Linked DNA regions of Homo sapiens. The protein of the gene in region 1 purifies or fractionates together with the protein of each later gene. This does not show direct contact. Each region holds a gene or a part of one and is shown in the gene's direction. Other genes may lie near its edges.

The links.
Region 2: the proteins of WRAP73 (region 1) and CNOT9 purify together in Homo sapiens (affinity purification with mass spectrometry; 3 studies listed by BioGRID and IntAct, with this or other methods). This does not show direct contact.

The regions. Positions count from the first base shown.
Region 1 is NC_000001.11:3,638,972-3,644,523, reverse strand, and holds part of WRAP73 (WD repeat-containing protein WRAP73), read left to right. Parts: intron 1-5,552.
Region 2 is NC_000002.12:218,594,185-218,597,580, forward strand, and holds the end of CNOT9 (CCR4-NOT transcription complex subunit 9), read left to right. Parts: coding exon 1-92; 3' UTR 93-2,896; downstream 2,897-3,396. UniProt on the Homo sapiens protein: Component of the CCR4-NOT complex which is one of the major cellular mRNA deadenylases and is linked to various cellular processes including bulk mRNA degradation, miRNA-mediated repression, translational repression during translational initiation and general transcription regulation.

The DNA.
Region 1 (5,552 bases):
GAATTCCAGACGTGCTGGCCAGGAAGTGAGCTGCGGGCACCGTCCATCAGTCTCATTCACAAGAGCAAGGACCAGACCCGTTCGAGGATTAGCGGGGCCACTAGGTCCCCTTCTGAAGGCGCGACCCCATGTCCGGGGCTCAGCGGGGCCACTGGATCCCCTTCCGAAGGCGCGACCCCATGTCCGGGGCTCAGCGGGGCCGCTGGGTCCCCTTCCGAAGGCGCGACCCCATGTCCGGGGCTCAGCGGGGCCGCTGGGTCCCCTTCCGAAGGCGCGACCCCATGTCCGGGGCTCAGCGGGGCCGCTGGGTCCCCTTCCGAAGGCGCGACCCCATGTCCGGGGCTCAGCGGGGCCGCTGGGTCCCCTTCCGAAGGCGCGACCCCATGTCCGGGGCTCAGCGGGGCCGCTGGGTCCCCTTCCGAAGGCGCGACCCCATGTCCGGGGCTCAGCGGGGCCGCTGGGTCCCCTTCCGAAGGCGCGACCCCATGTCCGGGGCTCAGCGGGGCCGCTGGGTCCCCTTCCGAAGGCGCGACCCCATGTCCGGGGCTCAGCGGGGCCGCTGGGTCCCCTTCCGAAGGCGCGACCCCATGTCCGGGGCTCAGCGGGGCCGCTGGGTCCCCTTCCGAAGGCGCGACCCCATGTCCGGGGCTCAGCGGGGCCGCTGGGTCCCCTTCCGAAGGCGCGACCCCATGTCCGGGGCTCAGCGGGGCCGCTGGGTCCCCTTCCGAAGGCGCGACCCCATGTCCGGGGCTCAGCGGGGCCGCTGGGTCCCCTTCCGAAGGCGCGACCCCATGTCCGGGGCTCAGCGGGGCCGCTGGGTCCCCTTCCGAAGGCGCGACCCCATGTCCGGGGCTCAGCGGGGCCGCTGGGTCCCCTTCCGAAGGCGCGACCCCATGTCCGGGGCTCAGCGGGGCCGCTGGGTCCCCTTCCGAAGGCGCGACCCCATTTCGGGGGTTAGTGGGGCCGCTGAGTCCACTTGCGAAGGCGCCACCCCACGTGAGGGTGCTGTGGAGCATGGGAGACGTCCCTGCCTCTTGCATTTTAACGTGAAAAGGCAAGCTTGCGCCCATTAGACGAGGTTCAGTGAGTCATCAAAAGCGGCTCACCCCTAGGCCTGCAGCGGAACACTGCCGCGCTTTCAGAGCCCTTCTCTTCCTCGTAGCAATGCCCTCCCCACCTGAGGGCACCTTTGCCCCACGTCTTGCGTGAATCACATCCTCACTGTTCTTGAGTCTCACTGTACAGATGTGTCTAAACACCACATTGCTTGCTGTGCAGTGTAAAGTTGATTTATAGGGGCTTGTACTTTGCAGTCTCTGCTGTTGCTGTTCCCCGTCACTGCTTTTAGACTCCTCCGTGTTGACAGGCATCGCTGGGCCTTCCCTTCCTCGTGAGGAACGCCATTCAGTCCTCGCCTGCTGGACGTGTGCGTCACCACGGACGGTGTGGCTGTGAACGTGTTGTCCCCGTCTCCTGGGCACATACCCGGAGAGCCTCTCTAGGAGAGCCTTGCTTGGCCGTAGCAGACGGAGGGGTTTCATTTGCCAAGGCTTTTGTGGCAGGATTACAATGATTCCATCCAGGCGACTAAATGATACTGCAGTTTGGATTTAGTTTGCGTTTCCCTAATTCTCGGTGAGGTTGAGTGCTTTCCTATCTTGTTTCATTACACACAGACGCTCACACATGCTCCATTTAAATGAAGCAGGTTCACGTAGTGGGGCACACTGTGGGGTCTGAATCCATTTCTACCTTTTCCCAGCAGCATTTTTTTTTTTTTTTTTTTGAGATGGAGTTTCGCTCTTGTCCCCCAGGCTGTAGTGCAATGGTGTGATCCAAGCTCACCGCAACCTACGCCTCCCAGGTTCAAGCGATTTTCCTGCCTCAGCCTCCCGAGTAGCTGGGATTACAGGCATGCGCCACCACGCCTGGCTAATTTTGTATTTTTAGTAGAGATGGGGTTTCTCATGTTGGTCAGGCTGGTCTCAAACTCTCGACCTCAGTTGATCTGCCTGCCTCGGCCTCCCAAAGTGCTGGGATTACAGGTGTGAGCCACCGTGCCCAGCTCCCAGCAGCATTTATTTAGAAGGCTATCTTCACCAGCTATAGCAGGAGCTCAGTTCCATTATACCTGCAGGATCACTTCTGGTTTCCATTCCAGTCCACTGTTGGTCCACCTATGTGCCAGCACCACACTGTCTACATTATTGAGGTTCTATGGTGTGTTTGAATATCTGATGGGACTGATTCCTCTTCATTGCTCTTGTAGTCTGTCAGATTTTTTAAAAACAATTTTTTTGTAGAGTTGGGGTCTCCCTTTGTTTCCCAGGCTGGTCTCGAGCTCCTAAACTCACGCAATCCTTCCTTCCCAGCCTCCTGTATAGCTGGCATTACAGGTGCACAACAGTGCGCCCGGCTCTGCCAGATTTTTAAATGTATTTTTGAGACTTTGTTGTTAGCTGCATACAAACTTTTAACTGTTTGTAAACAGATTTCCTAGTGAAGCGGTTCCCATGATTCCGCGGTGGCACAGGCCTTTTGTTGTAAAGTATTCCTCTTTATGTCTCACGGTTCTTTTTGTTTCAGAGTCTGATTTATCCCGTACGAATGCGGCAGTGCCACCTTTCTCTTGGTTAGGATTTTCTTGATATGTCTTTTTCTATCCTTTTACCTTCTACATTTCTGCATCCTTAAACTTGAGTGTGTATGTTGTAAATAGTCTATAGTTAGCTTTAAAAATATATCCAGACTGCAGACTTTTTCTTATATCTGAATAAAGGCAATTAAAACAATTTATAAGCAAGAGAATTCACCCACTTTAAGAGCACAGTTGAGTGAGTCACTTTGCACGTCATTGCCGCCACAATCAGGACCAAGACTGTTCGCCCGTGGCATGGGGCTCCTCGTGCCCCTTGTGCTCAGTCCGTCTCCCACCTGTGTCCGGCAGCCGGTGCCTGCTGCGGGGCGAGCAGCACTGCCTACTCGGAATCCCATCTGCACAGAGCCATGGTGCGTGGAGCTGTGCGTCTGCTTCCTTTTCCCTGGCATCTTGCTGGTTTTGAGTGTGCTGGGTTGTGGGGTGGATCAGTGGCCCGTTCCTCCATCTTGAGAGTGCTGGGTCATGGTGTGGAGAGAGTGCTGGGTCGTGGCATGGATCAGTGGCCTGTTCCTCCCGTCTTGAGTGTACTGGGTCATGGCTTGGATCCGTGGCCCATTCCTCTCACCCTGAGCATGCTGAGTTGTGGTGTGGATCGGTGGCCCGTTCCTTCCGTCTTCAGCACACTGGGTCGTAGCGTGGATCAGCGGCCCCTTCCTTCCCTCCTGAGTGCTCTGGGTCATGTGGATCCCTCTGGTCCTTTCTTCCTGCTGCTGAGTGCTGTGGAGCCCATCCCACGGGTCTCCTCCGCTGGCTTCTCCAGTGGTCAGTGGAAGGTAACAGCGCTGATGAAGGTGTATATTTAACTACCTTTTTTTCTTATTGGGTTTTTAAAAGTTGCAAAGTTATCTTTTAAAGGTTTTTGTTTCTTTGTTTTTGTGAGATGAAGGTAAAAATCAGGCTTAAAGTGCTCCCTGTGTTTCCTAAGATGTGCCTGAGTGGGGAGCCTCGGCCAGGCGCACCCCACAGGGATGCAGGGCCACAGGTGGGAGATGTGCTTTTCTCCTGTGACTCTGCAGTAGGCTCTGGAGGGCAGGTCTCTGCCCTGGGTGGCACATGGACTCTCCTGATGCTGAGAGGCTCGGGCGCTGCACCCCGCCCTGCTGATGCTGAGATGCTTGGGTGCTCCACCCCGCCCTGCTGATGCTGAGATGCTCCGTTGCTGCACCCTGCCCTGCTGATGCTGAGATGCTCGGGCGCTCCACCCTGCCCTGCTGATGCTCAGAGCCTCGGGCGCTCCACCCCGCCCTGCTGACGCTCAGAGCCTGGGGCGTTCCACCCTGCCCTGCTGATGCTCAGAGCCTCGGGCGCTGCACCCCGCCCTGCTGATGCTCAGAGCCTCGGGCGCTGCACCCCGCCCTGCTGATGCTCAGAGCCTCGGGTGTTCCACCCTGCCCTGCTGATGCTCAGAGCCTCGGGCGCTCCACCCCGCCCTGCTGATGCTGAGATGCTCGGGCGCTCCACCCCGCCCTGCTGATGCTCAGAGCCTCAGGCGCTGCACCCACCCTGCTGAGTCTGAGAGGCTTGGGCAAGGTTTCAGCCTCAGACACGCTGGTGGGAAGTAGCACGCTTCCTCGCTCAGGCCCCAGCGCCCTCCTTGGCCTCAGCTTGTGGAGCTGTTAGAGGAGCAAGTGCTCTGTGCAGCTGGAGTTCCGAGGCATGGTCCCCAGAACGGCCAGTGTGTTTCGGGTTCAGCATCAGCACAGGAGCCCTTCCGTGCTGCCACGTGACCCCTGGAGCTCGTTGATCCACTACCTGTGTGTTCAGGACTTCTCTCCTGAACGCTGTATATGTTGTTTGGAGAAACAATTACAGACATCAGATTTTCTTTTCTGTTGTAAGAAGAGATGATGCGTAGACATTTAAATTAAATCATTTGTTAATATCCTATACTGACAACCTGGCAGCGTTTGCAGGAGTGACACTGTGGACATGCTGTGCCCCACACGCTGCGGCCCCACTTACGCTGCTGGAGACGGTCCCCCACCCCGGGCCTCATCCTCAGCGAGGACCCCTGCCTGACACACACGGAGCTGGCAGTCAGCACCCCACCCCGCATGGAGCTGCGCAGCCCTGTGTCCCCACACACGGAGCTGGCAGTCAGCACCCCACCCCACATGGAGCTGCGCAGCCCTGTGTCCCCACACACGGAGCTGGCAGTCAGCACCCCACCCCGCACCTTGTGTCCCCGCACCTCGGCCATATTTCAGTTAACTACCAGATTCATCAGTGGGCCGGGGATGTGGGAAGCAAGATGATTCCCTGGTAGGCTCCACGGGGTCTCAGTGGGAAATGCAGGTGGAGGGACACAGCAGCCCTGGAAGTCCCGCGGCGCTGCCACGGGGAGGGCTGGACCACCCACTGCGGTGCCTCTCCCTCAGCAGGCACGCCCTCGTCGGCCTGGTTAGAAAATCATCTTTTGGCCTCACTGTGCCAGCCTAGTCAGCTCTCAGCTCCCTGAGTCAGGGAAAGGGGTGGAAAAGTGGACAGTCCAGCAGCGCATGTTCTAGAACCCTCTGCAGATGCAGCCAGGCCAGCGAGCACACGCAGGAGGCAGACGGACACCTTCTTGGGTGTTGAGTGGCTGCTCCTGCCTCAGGGCTGCAGATGCAGGCTCACAGCCCCCTGGTGAGTCCCGGAGTGGCTGCATCCAATCTCCAGATCCTCTGTCTTCCCATAAAGGAGACTGAACCCGTGGTGGTTTCTAGATCAAGATTTTTCTCTGAGTAACTCAGGGTTATTATAACATGCAACCTATGGTCACTTTGAAAAAGCTAATGAAAAAGCACTTGGATTTAACTTTGTGTCACTCAATTTTGGTATAAAACAACAACAACAGAAAACCAAGAACACCAAATTTACCGTAACCACAGTAAAATACGCATTTGAATATTCC
Region 2 (3,396 bases), on another chromosome or scaffold:
CCACCACGAAACGCTGGCTTGCACAACTGGTGAAGAACCTGCAAGAGGGCCAGGTCACCGATCCCCGGGGTATCCCCCTGCCCCCTCAGTGATCCTTCCCTGTTCCCTCCCACTACTCCCCCAAGTTGGGGAAAGGAGGGGGAACCTACGAGAAAAACAGCTCAGGTTTTATCACCGACTGGGAATAGACAACCTCAATGCTGAACCGCACTGGAGAAAAGGGGCAAGGTACCCCTGCTGAGGTGTATGGGCTGCCATCTCAGGCTGTCTTGAGGACCTGGGCTCCCTCTGCTACTCCCAGGAAATGGGCTCCTGACACAGCAGTCTGCCACCACAGCCCCAGGAGGGTGTCAACACCAGCAAATGCTGTATTTGCAGCATGTCCAAGATGACCCTTCTCCCCTACCTCTACCTAGCCACTGGCAGGGAGGGGAGACAGTGGTGATAGCAGCAGCACTCTAGGCATGGTGAACGCCTGGGACCAAGCCATGTGGCGTTTTTTATTTTGCCTTTCTGGAAGACTCAAGATATGTCTCTTCATTCTCTCTCAGTATTTGTTTACTTTGGTTTTTTTGTTTTTAATCTCAGAGAGAGGTGTGTTTAGTGGGCACAAGCTGTAATATTCAGCAAAACTTTGTCGACTGGCACTGTTTACAAGTCTGTTAGCTGCATAAGCTCAATAAAAAGTTGGTCTGGGCATTACATCCCCTCTGGCAGGCCAATAGCTGCATCAAGCTGTTGGGAGAAATGGGAGGGCAGGGGAAAGATGTAAAGCCAAAGTACAGCAGGAACCCACCACCTGTTTCCCTTCCTTCTCCCATTCTACTCCCAGTCCGGAATGCCACGAGGACCTTAACCTTGTTTCTGGCTTTAGCTGCTAGTTTTCCCAAATCTCAGTGCTTTCCCTTTTTGAACTTCCCTTCTATTAAACTTAAAACAGATGTCTTAATTAATCAGGCTGTCTTGGAAGGGTATTGTATTGGGAGACAAGGGGCGGTGGTGGACCTCACCTTCAATCCAAGTTTTCAAAGATATTTTCTCAATAACTCTAAAAGGGAGGTGCTTGGGATTAAGGTGACAGTCCACTTGATCCTTTTCTTTGTTTTAGTGTGAATTTCAGCAGCTCCATCTGTCTTCATGATTGTACTTGAGCAGTATTAGCTGTATGAGTTAATTTTATTCAGATTGAAGATGGAGGGCTGGGTTCTGCTCACTCAGTCTTTTTTTTTTTTTTTTTTTTTTTTTTTTGACCATTCTCTTTTAGTCTATGGGAATTACAGGGTTGCCGCTAAAATATTCACTTGTTCATATCGTGTCAGAGATTTCCTCTTCTCTGGAGCTTAGGTGGCTCTTCACAATCCATAGGCTTGAATCTGCAACCTAGTGTAAACTGCCTTGCTTTCCCCGGTTCTTTCCCCTGCTAGCACCTGCTTTCTCATCCCTATCTCCAGTCAAAGATGGGATTGCTTAATCCAACTCTGGAGAGGGACCAAGTCTTTTCTGCCCACATCTCACACAATTGAGGTGTCTGAACAAGCTTGGGGAGGGTCTATAAGGGGTAGGCTCAAAAAAAAAAAAACCCATTTGCAGAGGCAGTTTTGCCAACACAAGGGCTCTTTCAAGCCGACTTTCACAAAGAGAGCCGGACTTGTTAGTTGGCTTCTGTCTCTTTAGAGCCAAGAAAATAGTAATTAAGTGGCCTAGATATAGGAAGGGCAGAATAAGCACTTACTCCCCCTGCCTTCCAAGATGAAGAGGAGAAGCAGGCCAACCCTCAATAATTGCAAGCCTGAAGAGAAGTGATCTTAGAGAAAGCAGAGAACAGAATGGACTGGATAGACATCTTGACTCTATTCAGCCCGTAGTCTGTGATCTGGAGAGTCCAGTTAAGGTAACCCAGATTTTTGACAACCGCCTTCCTGCTGAGCCAAAGTTTTCTCATTACCCCTCCACTGGGGAAGCAGCTGAGGCCCAGGGCCTTGCTCCCTGGGAAATTCTCTTCTCTCCATCTTTCGGTGCATTGGCCATGTTACTGTGCCAAAGTGTCTTAATTCTTGTCCCATCTATTCTCAGCTGGCCTTGGAACCCACATAGGAGTTGGTGGGGGAGGGATGGAATGGGTATTATTCATTGTAGTTGATCCTGGTGTGTGTATTATATAAAGAGACCCCTCCCCTTATTTTGTGTTTTCCATCCCTCTCCCTTAACAGGATTGAAATAAAACATGCTTCTGTTTTTGTAAAAATAATTTTTCCTTTACACTGGAGATTTTATTCTATCAGTATATGGGTAACTAGGCACTTTGGTCAGGTGATCCTTGTCATGCCTGCTTCTCCCCTCTGTCTACCTACACAACACACACACACACACACACACAGCCCTGCTAAGATGGCAGTAGTGGTTCTTTTGTGAACATGTTTTTTGGGGAGACTCCATCTGAGGTACAAAAGCTGTTTGGGAGGCTGGGAGGGGGATGATGCCCCTTACCTGATAAAAGTATGTTTTACTGGGACAGAACTTCACTCCTGGCCATATTGGCCAGAACTTAGTGCCAGTGTAGGGAGAGACTTCCATAGTGACAAGGTAATGCTTGAAACATCTTACGAACTTTGATGTTCATTTCCTCAAGTTCAAGGCTTGGAGCACATCTCCAGGATTGTTTCCATGCCTGGCTGTCAGTGGGACACAGCTGCCCTATGCTTCCACGTTCTTTTTTCAAGAGCCTTAGAGGGCCTGTGGCCTGTTTCACTGGTGGAACAGGAGCAGCATTGGTAGCCTTCAGAGCATGCCTTGCTTACTAACTACATATTATTCCTCTGCTCATTGTTCCTGCTGCTTAAAGGCTAGGAAAAGGGGGATATACAAAGTTGTTGCTTTCAAAAACTCAGAGAAAAAATTTGGAATAGGAAACCTTAGAATGAAATTATATTTTTCTTTCCTGATACATTATGGAATTTAATTTTTGGAAAAATATTTTCATATGTTTATTTCAAAAGCAGATATAACAAATAGAAAATTTGTTGGTTTGTTTTGTTTTGTTTTTGGGAATTGGAGTTTCGGTCTTGTTTCCCAAGCTGGAGTGCAGTGGCATAATCTCAGCTCACTGCAACATCTGCCTCACAGGTTTAAGCAATTCTCCTGCCTCAGCCTCCTGGGTATCTGGGATTACAGCCGCCCGCTGCCACATCCTGCTAATTTTTGTATTTTTAGTAGAGACGGGGTTTCGCCGTGTTGGCCAGGCTGGTCTCGAACTCCTGGCCTAAGGTGATCCGCCAGCCTCAGCCTCCCAAAGTGCTGGGATTACAGGCATGAGCCACTGTGCCTGGCCAACAAGCAGAAAATTTGAATAACAATTAACATACCTGGCTTAAATGACATTCATAGAACACTGCACTC